2 separate regions of the Homo sapiens genome follow, and region 2 is linked to region 1. Evidence: fine-mapped expression QTL. A gene starts in region 1. The other region holds a variant in brackets. All regions are shown on one strand. Distances are from middle to middle.

Region 1 (8,535 bases):
GCATAGATGTAGAAAGGAATTTTGTAAATATGCCCTAAGCCTTAATAGTAATTAGAATGGGTATTGTTAATACTTTAGGATTGGTATTAACAAAACCAGTTATAATTACTACTAAGGCAAAGTTGTGAAAAATATTTTTGTTCTCTGCAGAGATGTTGGTTAGCTCCTTCTTCAAGGCAATTTACTGATTAAACGCCATGTAAAACAAGCCCTTTGAATAAAAGTATCAAAGAAAACAAATGAAAAGTAAAATAATAAGTTTCTCAATCTCTACATACTCAATCTATCACTCTGGAATCTAAACCACTAAACAAAGAAAACACAAAAGCACTTACCATCTTACAGCTTTTTATCTTGAGTTTACTAAGGGCTGTCATAACAACAGAAGGGAATCAATGTGCTCTAAACAGAACATTAACCCTATCTAACTGAATACTATCCAAGGGGATTTTAAAATTTCAGTTAACTCCTGAAATCTTAAATAGAGGCAGAAAGCATCTCCATTTCCTTCAAACTTAGAAATGTCAAAGAGAAAATAATGATGGGGGGAGGTGGGACTGAGATTTAAGTAACAAGTTTCCTTAGTTCCAAGCTAATTGACATTTTAACTTTTTTAACGGATAAGAACCCAATCAGAAGTCAGATGTAAACCCAGAAACAGAAATAGTATCATAGTATCACACTGCATTACCTTTTGTGTACAGTCACTAGTAGTACCACGAAAGAACAAAGCTAAACAAATACCACCCCATCATTAAGTGAAGGGGAAAAAGTCAGAGAACAAAGATTGCCCTACAATAAGCTTATTCCCCCATTAGTAATGTTGATTGATGCAAAAATATATTTTCATTATTTTCACCAACCTCCCTTTAAACGGTCCAATTCAACTACTTAGTCGGATTGAGCCTACTAAGGAAATGGGCTCATACAAAGGACAGCTGAAATATAAGTGTCTTGGTGTCAAATCCTGGGCCACATAACTAAAATATTAGAATATTTAACGCTGGTAGCCAAGTTTCAGGTTTTAAAGACAACTGTTTAAAAGATAAGTGTTTAACTTTCTGAATTGGAAGTTATTACAAACAAGAAAAATATTTAAAAAATTTAAGGTATTAACAAAATTAGGATAAACACTTTCTTTTCAAATTAAATATTATGCATTTCCTTTTACCTTGACAAATCCTTTATTTAACTGATGTAAAACCAAAAATCAGAAGATAGCACAGGAATCATTTACTCTTAAAATCTTATAAAATAAACTGGTCCACAAGTATAACATTTTTTTCTAGAAGCACATGGTAAATCTGAAGATGAGATGCACTGTCTTTTATTATCTAGTCAACACAAAGCAGTAATAATTAGAGCCATGATAAAAATTCATTTCTAAACCCTAATAATTATGGAAACAAACTAATAACCTGAAAGGAAAAAAAAAAAAGCTACCACTAATTTACTTGCAAGGATGTAAGAAAGGAAAAAAACCTCATTTCTTTTTTTCCTGTCTTCAAAAAGAATTTAAATACTACCCCATCATTCAAACAATACCTAAAAGTTTAAATGTCTGGCTACCTTATAATTTTCTAAAACCTACTTTTTCAAAATGTTTACTTCATCATTGTTCACTTAAAAGAGAATTTGTTCAATCTAAAGAAGTCCTGTGAGAATACTGACTCTACTGTAAAAGCCAGACGAAGTTTAAAAATTAGAAACAGCCAATTTGAGAAGCAAACAACCTGTTAAAAGCAGAATTAGCATCATTTAGCAGAAATGAATTATGAATTTAAGCAGAAATATCTATATCAGTAGGGAGGAATTCAGAATGGGAGAAGGGCAAGATAGTCTTAACATTTAAGCCTGTTGACAGAATCAAATTACAATGCTTAACATTTTGTTTTTTTTAAATGATAATAAAACTTAAAACTAAAAGTTCATTATTACAGGTTTGAAAATCTGCAGGAAATTCTTCCTTCTTCCCTCCCATTTCTCCCTACACTTCTCCAACCCCACACACACTGCACAAAGAAAATTTAAACACAAAATGCTAAAAGTAATTGAAAGCCTTCAAATTAAATTTGTATATGAGAGGCACTCCAATTCATTAGCACAACAGAAGAAAATAAGATATATCAAGGCCTCACTTTTTCTGGGGTGGGAATGGGGGGTGGGTGAGGTTTCTTCCAGGATCACCACCCATCCTTTCCAAGGAAGAAGTTAGAGACCCAAGATTCAGCTTGAAGAAAGCAGGGCAGGCACAAAGGATACCTAAGCAGTAATGCCAGGGAATGGCGTGGGAAGGAGGGACGGATTACAAACGAAGAAAGAAGTCTTTTACTTTTTTAAAACTTAATCTTTTTTTTTTTTGAGACGTTGTCTCTGTCGCAAGGCCGGAGTACAGTGACGCGATCTCGGCTCACTGCAACCTCCGTCTCCCAGGTTGAAGCGATCCTCCTGCCTCAGCCTCCCGAGTAGCTGGGACTACAGGCGCGTGCCATCACACCCGGCTAATTTTTTTATTTTTAGTATAGACGGAGTTTCACCATGTTGGCCAGGGTAGTCTCAATGTCTTGACCTCTTGATCCGCCCGCCTCGGCCTCCCAAAGTGCCGGGATTACAGGCGTGAGCCACCGCGCCCGGCCAATCGTATTTAACAGACAAGCAAACAAACAAAAAAAGACAGGAGCTCAGTGGCAGGCGCTTCCTCCAAAGTCCAGGTTTTTAAGGAAAGCAGCCCAACCTGGGAAAAAAAAAAAAAAAGAAAAGAAAAGAAAAAAAAGATAATGCTGAACGAAAAGGGCTGAAGACAGAACAAGGACACTAAGAGGAAAAAAGCGCGGGCGATCAAGCTGGTAATCTAAGGATGGGAGGGAGGGAATAAAGAGAACAAGTGAGGGACGGATCCTTAAAGAAAACTAGGACAGCCCCCCAGCTGGGCGCCCCCCGAGCAGGCCAAACACGCCAGCAACAACGGGAGTGCTTTCCAATTCTTCGCCCCCGTTTTCTACTTTCACAGATGAATGAAAGTGCACAACTCCAGAGCAGGATGCCTTTCCTGTCTCAATCCCGCCCGCGCTCCGGGAGCGGAGCTCGTGGTTACGATCCCCTTCGCTCACACCTCTTCCCTCACCCACGGTTTGCCACCTCCGGATCAAACAGAAACGGGTTCCTTGGCCGTTAGGAAGTTGTGCATACAAGTCTAGCATCCTTTCTCAGACTTTCTCGGCCCGCCTTTTAGAACGTGAGCGGGTTGGCCCTACAGGGATTTCTCCTCGCCCCCGTCAGTTTATTCCCCACCCCACCCTCCGTTCCCCTTTCTTGGAGTGTGAACCACCTCTCCCTTCTTGGGACGCTTAGGGACCGTTCCATTCACATCTTTTTTGGTACAAACACAGAATGCGGTCTGCACCCGGCGCAGTTTCGTAAGGGGTGTAAAGGTGAGGGCAAGGAACAAGGAATTCCAAAGGCCCCGCACCCTCAGCATCTCCCGCCATTTCCCTGACGAGTTTCCCGGATGTAACCCCTTACCCGAGGCGGTTTAGACACCAGACGGTGGCGGCTCCCTTTGGTGCAGGAGGAGGGAACTCGACTCTGGTCCAGCCTCCGCCGCCCGGAGTTTCCGGCGACTCCAAATTGTGCCCCACCTCCGAGGCCATGGGGGAAAAATAAACTACCCAGTAGATCTCCTTCACTTTGCACTCACCATCAGTTCCAGCTTATCGACCTCCGCCTCCATGTTGAATAGTTGACATTCCGCAGACCGCGGCGGCGCTTAAGCCGCAAGCCGTACTAGCACGGAGGGCCTCCATTGGACAGCTGTCACTCAACATCTCGCACTCATTGGCTCCTCCGTTCCACCGGCTCCCGCCCATTGGAGACTGGGTAACGCCCCTCTGCATGAGACACATTTTCCTGTTGGGCAAAGGCACAAAACGCCGCAGGAGGATTGGCTGCTGTGCAAATTTTTTTTTCCATTGGCTGCCCCCTCCTCTCTACTTTCAATTTTGTAGTTAGGGCTCTGCAGAGAAGAGCTTGAGATTGGTGCAATTGGAAGAAGAGCCAACCAATCACACCAGAGCTTCCACCGACAGCAGAGGGGACGTAACACACCTTCTTTCCCCTCCGGCTTTCCTTCCCCTTCTCTCCCGCCTTCTCCTTATTCATACCAGAAGCGCCTCAGCTCTGATTGGCTGGAGCTCTGTGCTATCTCAGCCAATCACAAGCCGGGCTGTGCTCCTACACCATCCGAAGAGCGAATCGTGCAGAGACCGTGTCTACGATTGGCCTCTCCCTGACAAGGATTTAATTTTGAATTTTTCTTTATGGCGTGGGAGAGGCCACAGCCCGGACTCCATCGACTCCCCCGGCTCTTAGACTAGTAAGTGCAGGAACGATTATTTCTTTGTTATCTGAGCTCGCGTCTTGAGTAGCTGGGCCTGTTGCTGCTTGTGTTTTTATGGTTTAGGGAGGTGGGGACTTTGGCTGGACACGAAGGGGAAATGGAAAGGAGGAAGGGGAGGTTTGGGGCTGGGGAAGAAGTGCTCGGCCTGGCTTCATCTTAACCATACTTCTATTTAATTAACACTTCGCAAGATACGTTTTGGAGCAAAGCATCTGCCTTCCTTTTGAACATTTCTTTACATATTTGCTGCTCAATGCAAGTCCACAGATCAGCGGCATCCGCATCTCTTGTTTGCTTGTTACAAATGCAAATTATCGGACTCCACCCAAATTTACTAAATCAGAATATACATTTTAACAAGATTTCCCTGAGTGATTTCTATGCACATTAAAGTTTAAGTTGGTACATTTCTTGACTGGGAATATTACTATGTTACTCGATATTGTCTGGCATGCTGTTAGAGTGTCAATTTTAAATGCGTGTCCTGTTTACTGAGTGCCTAATACTGTGCGGGATGAGACTTTAGGGAGCTGCAGTCTCTTTGGAAAAACAAGACAGAACAAAAACAGCAATGCTTAAAAAAAAAAAAGCATAAAACATAAAATTTAAAAAAAGCAAGTACCCAGAAATAGTGCTATGGGTGTTCAAGAAGAATCAATTGGACTGCTAATGGAAATTAAGTAATTGAAGGCTATTTGTGGAGGAGCGCAAGAGACTTCCATAAAAATGTGTTTTAGGAAGATGGCAATGAAATGCAACAGTCATTTCCGTTGCTGCTACAGCTTTGAAAGTACCCCAGAACAAAGAACTTTTCTTCTCTTTCTTTCTTTTTTTTTTTTTTCTTTTTTTGTGACGGAGTCTCGCTCTGTCGCCTAGGCTGGAGTACAGTGGCACAATCTCGGCCCACTACAACCTCAGCCTCCTGAGTAGCTGGGAGTACAGGCGCACGCCAGCACGCCCGGCTAATTTTTGTATTTTTAGTAGAGACGGGGTTTCACCCTCTTGGCCAGGATGGTCTCGATTTCCTGACCTCGTGATCCACCAGCCTCAGCCTCCCAAAGTGCTGGGATTACAGGCGTGAGCCACCACGCTCGGCCGCAAAGAACTTTTCATATCATTGGGTGGAGTTTTCACAGAAGCAGCAGCGCCAACTCCTGCAAAAGACTGTAATTCTTACTGTATTATTTATTGCATCTTCCTATTGGAAAATAGCTTTAGACCCATCTTTTAGCCATATGAAGATGTGGTATGATATGAAGAAGTAAAAACCTCCCTAACCAAGAGAATTTGACAATATTAGAATATATTCCTTAACTAAAATAACACTTGCTAGCTAACACTTAGCAGGAATGCTTCTTTTCATTCTTTATTGAATGAAACATTATTTAGCTCCTGCTGTATTCTAGATGCTGGGAAAACAAAGATGAATGAAATTTGTCACACCCTTGAAAAGCTCACAGTCCAGCAGGATGACAAACATACAAGCAAAAATTACAATGAAATGTAATACATTTTATAATAAAGATGTGTATAAAGTGCTATAGAAGTGCAAAAGAGATGACATTTCAGCCAGTATAAATTCTGTAAGGAGGCTGGGCATGGTGCCTCACACCTGTAATCCCAGCACTCTGGGAGGATGAAGCGGGCGGATCACTTGAGGTAAGGAGTTCAAGACCAGCCTGGCCAACATGGCAAAATCCCATCTCTACTAAAAATACAAAAATTATCCGGGTGTGGTGGCACGCCCCTATAATCCCAGGTGCTCAAGAGGCTGAAGCAGGATAATCGCTTGAACCCAGGAGGTGGAGGTGGCATTGAGCTGAGATCACACCACTGCACTCCAGCCCGGGTGACAGAGCGAGACTCTGTCCACCCCCCCAAAAAAAAAAAAATTCTAGAAGGACAAAGACTATGTTGGTGTTGTTCAGGATTGTATGCCAGCACCTAGCATAGTACTTGGTGGATTATAAGCACTCAACTAATATCTATAAGATAAAATAACAGAATCTTGAAGGCTAGGTATAAGTTGACTTGGAAGAGGATACTCTAAACAGAAGGAAAGGCTGATAGAAAGAAACAGAAAGTATTTGGTGTTTAGTATACCTGGAAGTACAAACCGCTAGTCACTAGAAGAGACTATGGCAAAGGGCCATTAGAGCTAAGTTGTGAAAAGTTTTGAAAGGCATGCTAAGGAATTTAATTTTGTGAGTAAAGGAACCTTCAAATACTTTTAAGCAAGGGAATATCTAGATCTCATTTTGTTTTAAAGTATCAGTTCTGGTATGGAAAATGAACTGGCAAGGAGAAAGACTGAAGGCAGGAGAATCATTGAAGGAACACTCAGCAAACCCAAACTAAGAAACATTCTCCAAAACGACTGACTTGGACTCTTCAAAATTATAAATATGAAGAAGCAAATACATAAATAAAAAAGCTGGAGAATTGTTATGAATTAAAGGGTACTAAAGAGACACTACTGCTAAATGCATGTGGAACCAGGGTGGGAGAAGCTATAAGGGATATTGAGACAATTGGGGCAATCCGAATATGGGCTGTTTATTAGATCATTTCATAACAAGGTTAAATTTCCTGACTGATTGTGGTTTTGTTGGAAAATTTCCATGTTTATGTTAGAAAACAAAAGCTAAAGTATCTAAGAGTAAAGTATCATGATGTCTGCAACTAAATCTATTCAATCCAAAACTAAAAAAATTTATGTATGTATATATTTGTACATACGTACAGAAAGAGTGTGTGTACAAAGACGGCAATTGACAATTGGTAAATCTAGGTGAACTGTATATGAGTGCTTATTATACTATTGTAAATTTTTTATTTCCTGGAGCCTTGAAATTTTTCTAAGTAAAAACAGTAAAGGAAAATAGACAATAGTGAAAGACAAAAATGAAAAAAGTGAAGGCAACTGAAGTTAGAGGACAGAACGGAGGGGGATGGTAAGGAGAAGAGACAGGGTAAATTAATCAGAGAAATATTTCTGATTCATACTCACATTGGCCCACACCCAGGTGTGGTGTGCACCCAGTGCAGTGGCGTGATCTTGGCTCACTGCAACCTCCACCTCCTAGATTCAAGTGATTCTAATGCCTCAGCCTCCCGCGTAGCTGGGATTACAGCACACTCCACCACACCTGGCTAATTTTTCTATTTTCAGTAGAGACAGGGTTTCACCCTGTTGGTCAGGCTGGTCTCGAACTCCTGACCTCAGGTGATCCACCCACCTCAGTCTCCCAAAGTGCTGGGATTACAGGTGTGAGCCACCGCACCCAGCCTCCCACACCCTCTTTTTTTATAACCCTCTACTCCAATAGGAGCTCCATTGTCTCTGCATTCTTTTCACCTTCCTGGCCATGCCTTTTCTAGTTCTTTCTCTACCCACTCCTTATACATGGTGTTTCTCAAAGTTTGGTAATCAGCTCATAGATCTTTTCACTCCACATATTTCTCTGGGTAATTTCACTCATTTCTAGTGTTGTTATTTTCTCAAGCTACCTATACACTTATGAGTGCAGTATTTCTCTAGTGTCTTTCCCCTGAACTTCTGACTTTGAACATAGAACATAAGCAGTTAGATGTATTTAGATACCCTACTGTCGCTCCTATAATCAGGTCCTCATCCCCTAGACAGTTGCAGTAGGTTTGTAAGTGGTCTCTTTGTCTTCAGTCATGGTCCCATAAATCCAATTTCCACGATGCTGCCAAACCATTCTTTCTAAAGAAGAAATACGAGCATGACAATTATCTGCTTAAAATCCATTATTGTTTCTGATGTCTTGGTCCTTATCCACCCTCCAGCTTCATCACTCATTGCCCCCTGACAAAACTTTACGTTGCAGGATATGCTTTAGTCACACTGAGTCTTGTCTGAATCCCCTGACATACCTTTCTCTGAAATGTTTCCATGTTATTCCCTCTGATGGGATGAGTCCTCCCTAGGCCCACCTTAACCTAGCCCCTTCATCAAAGCTCAGCTTAGGCAAAACCTTTTCCAAAAACCTCAACCCTTATGGGAGAATTATGTACCCTTGCTTTATTTCTCCATTAATATCATATACATATCCCATCATAACCCATACACTATTGTATACCTGTTTACTTTCTGCTTACCCATCTCTCCCCAC
Region 2 (8,000 bases), 25 kb before region 1:
AATCTTGAGAACATTATAAGTGACATACATGAGTCACAAAAAGACAAATATTATATGATTCTACTTATATGAGTCCCTAGAGTAGTCAAATTGATAGAGACAGAAAGTAGAATGGTGGCTGCTAGGAGTGGAAGAAAGGAACGTGGAGTTATTGTTTAATGGATATACAGTTACAATGTGGGGAGATGAAAACCTTCTGGAGATTGATGATGGTGATATTGTACAATAATGTGAATGTAGTTAATGCCAGTGAACTGTTCACTTAAAAAAGATTAAGATGGCTATCAGGTATAAGGACACGTGCCTGTAATCCCAGCTGCTAAGGATATTGAGGCCAGAGGATAAACCTAGGAATTGGAGTTCAGCCTGGACCATATTAAAATGGTAAATGTTGTTATTTACATTTTACTACAATTTCTTTTCTTTTCTTTTCTTTTGAGACAGTCTTGATCTGTCGCCCAGGCTGGAGTTCAATGGCGCAATCTGGACTCACTGCAACCTTCACCTCCTGGGTTCAAGCAATTCTCCTATCTCAGCCTCCCAAGTAGCTGGGGTTACAGGCTCGTGCCACCACGCCCGGCTAATTTTGTATTTTTAGTAGAGACGGGTTTCATCATGTTAGCCAGGCTGGTCTTAAACTCCTGACATCAGATGATCAGCCTGCCTCAGTTTCCCAAAGTGCTGGGATTACAGGCATGAGCCACCACACCCAGCCCACAATTTTTTTTTTTAAACTGAGAATGTAAAATGCTTTAGATGCCTTGGAAAACAGTTTGGTAGTTCCTTAAAATATTAAACCTGAGTTATCATATGGCCAGCAATTCTACTCCAAGGTATATACTCGAGAGAAATGAAAACACATGTCCACACAACAACTTGTAAATGTATGTTCATAGCAGCCAAAAGGTGGAAACAACACAAATGACCACCATCAACTGATGACTGGATAAGAAAATGGAGTATGGGCCGGGCACGGTGGCTCACACCTGTAATCCCAGCACTTTGGGAGGCCGAGGTGGGTGGATCATGAGGTCAGGAGTTTGAGACCAGCCTGGCCAACATGGTGAAACCCTGTCTCTACTGAAAATACAAAAATCAGCTGGTGTGGTGGCACGCACCTGTACTCCTAGCTACTCAGGAGGCTGAGGCAGGAGAATCGCTTGAACCCAGGAGGCGGAGGTTGCAGTGAGCTGAGATTGCACCACTGCACTCCAGCCTAGGGGACAGAGCAAGACTCCATCTCAGAAAAAAAAAAAGAGAGAGAAAAGAAGATGGAGTATAGCCATACAGTGGAGTATTACTCAGCAGTAAAAGCAAATGAAGTACTGATTGACGCTACAACATGGATGAAACTTAGAAACATCCTAAGTGGGCCAGGTGCAGTGGCTCATGCCTGCAATCCCAGCACTTTGGGAGGCCGAGGAGGGTGGATCACCTGACGTCAGGAGTTCAAGACCAGCCTGGCCAACATGGCAAAACCCTGTCTCTACTAAAAAATACAAAAATTAGCCAGATGTGGTGGCACACACCAGTAGTCCCAGCTACTCAGGAAGTTGAGGCAGGAGAGTTGCTTGAACTCGGAAGGCGGAGGTTGCAGGGAGCAGAGATAGTGCCACTTCACTCCAGCCTGGGTGACAGAGCGAGACTCGGTCTCAAAAAAAAAAAAAAAAGAAACATCCTAAGTGAAAAAGTTAGACATGAAAGGTCATATATTATATGATTCTATTTATCTGAAATGTTCAGACAACAAATCTGTGGAGACAGAAAGTAGATTCGTCTTTGGGAGCTTGCAGGATAGCAGGGAAGGGTGGTAGGGAGTAGCTACTCATGGGTATGGGGTTTCTTTCTGAGGTGATGAAAATGTTATTGTGGCAATGGCTACAAAACCATGAATACTAAAAGCCACTTAATTATATACTTTAAAGGGGTGAATTTAATGGTATATGAATTATAGCTCAATAAAGCTGCTTTTTTAAAAAGTTGCAGGAAAAAAAATACCCACAGGTGGAACAAAGATGAGAGATGGAAGTCAGAGGAAAAATGGGAGCACTACACGTCAATGTCTTTCAAAACAGTACTTGAAAGATACTGACTAGGTCAGGCGTGGTGGCGCACGCCTATAATCCCAGCACTTTGGGAGGCCAAGGCAGGTAGATCGCTTGAGTCCAGGAGTTCAAAACCAACCTAGGCAACATGTTAAAATCCCATCTCCACTAAAAATACAAAAATTAGCTGGGTGTGGTGGTGTGTGCCTATAGTTCCAGGCACTTGGCGGACTGAGGTGGGAGGATTGCTTGAGCCCAGGAAGTCAAGGCTGAAGTGAGCTGAGATTTTGTTACCGCACTCCAGCCTGGGTGACAGAGTGAGACCCTATCTTAAACACACATACACACACACACACACACACACACACACACACACACACGGTCTTTAAACTGATAAAAACAGATACTACACTTGATCTTAGCCAAAAGGCTGAGAAGAAATATCACAGGAATCTTTAAGACAAAAGAAAGAAAGGAAGGAAGGGAAGGCAGGGGAAGGAAAGAGAAGGAATGAAGGAATGGAAGGGAAGTGAGGAAAGAAAGGAAGAAAAGGAAGGAAAGGGCCAGGTGTGGTGGCTCACGACTAATCCCAGCACTTTAGGAGGCTGAGGCGGGTGGATCACTTGAGGTCAGGAGTTTGAGACCAGCCTAACATGGTGAAACCCCATCTCTACTAAAAAATACAAAAATTAGCCGAGCATGGTAGCCTGCGCCTGTAATCCCAGCTACTCGGGAGGCTGAGGCGGGAGAATCCCTTGAACCTGGGAGGTGGAGGCTGCAGTGACCCAAGATCACACCCCTGAACTCCAGCCTGGATAACAGAAGGAAGGGAAAGGAAGGGAAGGGAGGAAAGGGAGGGAGAAGAAGGATGGGAGGAAGGAAAAGAGGGAGGGAGGGAGGGAGGGAAGGAAGGAAGGAAGGAGAGAAAGAGGGAAGGAGGGAAGGAAGGAAGGGAGGAAGGGAGGGTAAGGGGAAGGGAAGGAAGAGAGAAAAAGAGAGGGAGGGAGGAAGAGAGAAAGAGGCGGGGGGGAGAGAGAGAAAGAAAAAAGGGAAGAAAAAAGAGAAAGGAAAGAAAGAAAAGAATAGGGAGCTAGAACAGTACAAACTACACTCCCATAGAATTCTAGCATTCCATGAAATAAACAGTAAAAACTGAACATTCGTGAAATTTTCCCAATTTTCTATAAAATGTTAGTTTAACTTATACTTCTACCCAATCCAAAAAAAAATTTTTTTAATTGTATGGAATTTTTTTTTAACTGTAAAATGCACTGTTTCTTGTCTGCTGGTAAGTGCTATCAAAGACAAATATTGGTCGCACGTGGTGGCTCATGCCTGTAATCCCAACACCTTGAGAGGCTGAGGTAGGCAGATCACTTGAGGTCAGGAGCTCAAGACCAGCCTGGCCAACATAGTGAAACTCCGTCTCTACTAAAAATACAAAAAAAAAAAAAAAAAAAAAAATTAGCTGGGCATTGTGGCGCACGCCTGTAATCCCAGCTACTTGGGAGACTGAGGCAAGAGAATCGCTTGAACCCAGGAAGTGGAGGTTATGGTGAGCTGAGATTGCACCACTGCACTCCAGCCTGGACGACAGAGTGATCCGTCTCAAAAAAAAAAAAAGATAAATATTAATTAAGCCTGATACCTGGGCTTTGGGGAAAAAAAGATAAACATTATTGAATTAGTGATTTTAGTGTTAATGTTAACAGACGATGCTTGGAGATTATTTACTTTCACCCCCATGAACATGTATGTATACTTACACTTAATGATTTTATGACATAAAGCAGAGTTAATGTTTCTAATCAACCTAAACTTAGAGTAATTAAATAGATAGCTTTATCTAGAAATCACTATTCATAAAATATAAGTAAAAAATCTAATAGTGTATCATTACCTTCCTCAGAGAATATGCTGACTGCCAGGACTTCTCCCCTCAAACTTACTGAAGAACAACTGCCCTAGAGGTAGCTATATTCTCTCTTGGAATTTCAGAGGCTGCCACAGTGGCTTGTACCTCTGAACTCAATGATTATTTTTTAAAGGTTAGGGGAAAAAAAGTAGCCACAAATTTCACGGACTATTGGTACTATTTCTCCAGTGTGCTATAACCAAACTTCCAACACAATGCAAGATTTTAAGATTCTATAAACTTAATAATATAATTCTTATGATCTATTACTATTAGGAATGCTATCAGAAAATTCTAAAGTATTCAGTTAAGGCTGATTTTTTTTAAGCTTATTTATTTCGGAGATTACCTCACTTGCTGAATCAGGATGATTAGTCTTGATTTCATATTCCAGCCTGTATTGAATGTAATCCAGATCAGACTCAGCTTTCTGGAACTAAAGATCAGCACAAATCATTA[T/C]TGTGTAAACCAAAAGACTAATAGTAAACATGATACTTTATTCTTTTTTTCTCTTTACATTTGTTAGTATTTCAATAAGTGATACATACTCATTTGAAAATGTGGAAATAAAAAGTATATAAAATATCCATTATCCATAATAACTATGCTCTATGAAAAATTTAAAAAGTAGTTAACATTTTAAAGTCATTCATTTCTCTATGCCTCTCTCTTACATTTTGAGCCAAAATCAAGATACTGAGTAGCCATTGTCAGATATTAATACAAAAAACTAATAATGACGTCAATAATTTCCTAGGGTCACAGATACTCTCATCAGTTAGGCAGTGTTTTTCTACCTCTGGCAGAAAATACACTTTCAATTTAAAACACAGAACAAATTTATTTCAGGAATACTCATATTGTTACCTTTATTTGCAATCCCATTGATCAAAGAGCTACAACTATGTGCCACTAAAATTAAGAGGGCTTAAAGAGTCACAAATTTCACAAGAAAAGCTACATATGATATGGGAGTAACAGTCTGAATAACCCCAATTTACTGAACCTGGGTGCCAGCATGGGAACTTGATCTGTAGTAAACCTCAAAGGAAGAAAAAAGGGGAGAACTACCACCCTGAGGCCATTATGGATATAGGATGCCTGAATTAAAGTGAAAAGTTACATTTAAAAATATCAGTATTGGCCGGGCACAGTGGTTCACACCTGTAATCCCAGCACTTTGGGAGGCCAAGGCAGGTGGATCACCTGAGGTCAGGAGTTTGAGACCAGCCTGGCTAACATGGTGAAACCTCATCTCTACCAAAAATACAAAAATTAGCTGTGCATGGTGGCAGAAGCCTGTAATCCCACTTACTCGGGAGGCTGAGGCAGGAGAATCGCTTGAACCCCGGAGGTGGAGGCTGCAGTAAGCCAAGATTGCACCATTGCACTCCAGCCTGGGCGACAAGAATGAAACTCCGTCTCCACAAAAAAAAAAATAAGTATTTGGGGCCAGGCACAGTGGCTCATCCCTGTAATCCCAGCACTTTGGGAGGCTGAGGCGGGCGGGTCACTTCAGCCCGGGAATTCAAGGCTAGCCTGGCCAACATGGCAAAACCCCATCTCTACTAAAAATACTAAAATTAGCTGGGGATAGTGGCATGTGCCTGTGGTCCCAGCTATTTGGGTAGCTGAGGCACTAGAATCAGTTGAACCGAGGAAGCGGAAGTTGCAGTGAGCCAAGATTGGCCACTGCACTCCTGCCTGGGTAACAGAGCAAGACTCTATCTCATAAATAAGTAAATAAGTAAATATCAATATTTGGAATACCATGCCATTATTGAAAACGATGATATACAAAAAAATACTTAAGGGGGGGCTTTCACATTTTACTCTATTTCTGTAGTATTTGTAATGAGCAGCTATTTAACCTTTCAAAAGGTCATTTGTTTTTAAAATGATAATGTATAGACAGATTTGACATGACACTATATTTATGACTCATTAAATACAAAAACAGCCTTGAGTATGTTATGGCCTCTTTTTGTAAAAGAGATGTATACATATACAAAGTTGAGATGGATATATGACAGTGTTAAAAAGAATTTTCTTTTTCTTTTTTATGAGACAGGGTCTTGCTCTATAGCCCAGGCTGAAGTGTTGTGGCACCATCATAGCTCACTGCAGTGTCAAACTCCTGGGCTCGTGGGATCCTCCTACCTCCTTCCGAGTGCACCTGGGACTACAGGCACATGCCATGGCACCCAGCTAATTTTTGATTTTTTACAGAGACAGGATCTCATTATGTTGCCCATGCTGGGCTGAAGCAGTCCTCCCACCTCAGCCTCCCGAAGTGCTGGAATTACAGACGTGAGCCACCATGTCCAGCCTAAAAGTGGTTTATTTCTGCAAGCGGTATAATCAATGAATTATTCTTAACTTCATGAAATTCCGCATCTTTTACAGGACCTTAAAGCATATATTGCCTCGAGTTTATCAGGGATATAACTGTCCTTAGAGTTTACTACAGAAAGGAAAACATGATTTCCACAGGCATGGTCTCCTATTCCTATCCCAAAACATAGGAGGCTGTTTGCAGGGAGGGTGCTGCTCTTATTATGAACTTTATCACTGAACTAAAGATTGATTCTCAAAATCCTGAAGCCTTAGTGGAAGGGGAAAAACTGTTAAAAGCAGTTCTCAGGTCTAATAAGAAATGATGTACAGTTATTTTTAGTATATAAAAGGTTCTATTAGGACCCTACTTTCAAATGTAGAGTAAGACAAAATGGCTGTCAGAAATTCAAATGCTTCTAAGGTCAGAAGCTGTCATCAAACAGAATTTCAGAAATAAACTAGTTTCCATCACTAATAATTTCTCTTATCATTGACCTAAATTGGAATGGAAAACTCTGCAATGACCAAAATTCTATCTTTATAGCCAAAACTTGGGGGGAGGGTACAGATAAAAGAAAGAGAAGGTTTTTGTTTTTAAACATATTTTCCAGGTCAATATCTTATTTCCATCTCTAACATCAGGGAGTTGCTCTAAGCCAGAAAAATTAATGTTGGGTACATAATTACAAAGTGTGTTTAAAATGATTTCCAAAAAGTGGAAGCTTTTCATTTATCCTCTATACTTGTCAGATGAGATGCCACGATTAAATTAATCAATAATTACAACTCCTTAAAAATACTAATGTTTGTGTCTGTGTGTGTATTAAGAAATTCCTATTTGCATAATTTCTCATACTAAGATATACTTAGGGATTATCTTTTCCTATAAATAAGAAAAGTACACTAACCCATAAAACATGTGGATGGAGAGAATGAGGAGAGACCAGGAGCCAGAGCAAATCAAAGTTAACAAAGGCTGTGAGCACTCAAGACCTGATTTTGTTTGTCTTAATTACTGAACAGACCACAATTCCATAGCTTTTTTCAATGAGTTATATAACATTCTTAAGCACAACTTTAAATACAAGTCTTTAAAGCTTGTTTTAGTCATTTAATTTACCATAAATTATGGAATTTGTGGCTCCAGAGATTCCTAAGACAGAATCTCTATTCTAGAAACCCTTAACATGTTTATGAAACGAAGTATTAAACTTACATATTTTTTAACTTGATATTTAGTTCTGCTTGAAGTTTAGCATAATCTCATGTAGTTCCTTGAATGGTAACTTTCCTTTTTTTTTTTGGAGGAGTCTTGTTCTGTTGCCCAGGCTAGAGTGCAGTGGCACAGTCTTGGCTCACTGCAACCTCTGCCTCCGGGGTTCAAGCAATTCTCCTGCCTCAGCCTCCTGAGAGCTGGGACTACAGGCCTAAATTGTCCTAAATTTGGCAACTGAGACCTCCAAGGTTTGAAAGATTTTTACAATAATCTAACGTATATGTCACAAAACATGATGAGTTTGGGGGACACAAAACTCCCAAATGTAGACTATATTCATATATATATTTTTGTCATTTATTTTTTTTGAGACAGGGTCTCACTCTGTCATACAAGCAGGAGTGCAGTGGCAACAACTCGGCTCACTACAGCCCCAACCTCCCAGGCTCAACAGATCCTCCCACTTCAGCCTCCCAAGTAGCTGGGA

Direction of the effects. Alleles are on the strand shown, and positions count from the first base shown. SD is a standard deviation of normalised expression in the study named.
As copies of T replace C in region 2, the expression in prefrontal cortex of the gene that starts at base 3,753 in region 1 goes up (small effect, 0.25 SD a copy in BrainSeq).

What was found. PIP is the estimated chance that this variant, and not a neighbour inherited with it, causes the effect.
Region 2: its variant is the best candidate, but not a certain one, in a credible set for the expression of SKA2 in prefrontal cortex (BrainSeq, PIP 0.83).

Annotation. Positions count from the first base shown.
Region 1 is chr17:59,151,434-59,159,968 of GRCh38, forward strand. It overlaps SKA2 (spindle and kinetochore associated complex subunit 2), which reads right to left and starts at 3,753. Exons shown (of 4, transcript NM_182620.4): 1 at 3,698-3,753. The coding sequence starts at 3,730. PRR11 (proline rich 11) reads left to right here and starts at 4,313. Exons shown (of 10, transcript NM_018304.4): 1 at 4,313-4,372. RefSeq lists enhancers at 3,541-3,780, 4,441-4,490, 6,799-7,998.
Region 2 is chr17:59,126,972-59,134,971 of GRCh38, forward strand. SKA2 (spindle and kinetochore associated complex subunit 2) reads right to left here. Exons shown (of 4, transcript NM_182620.4): 2 at 4,310-4,396. It also overlaps the pseudogene RNU2-58P. Among named protein-coding and RNA genes, the nearest start is that of MIR454, 6.9 kb to the right of the region's middle. The variant T/C (reference allele first, on the strand shown) is at 4,420.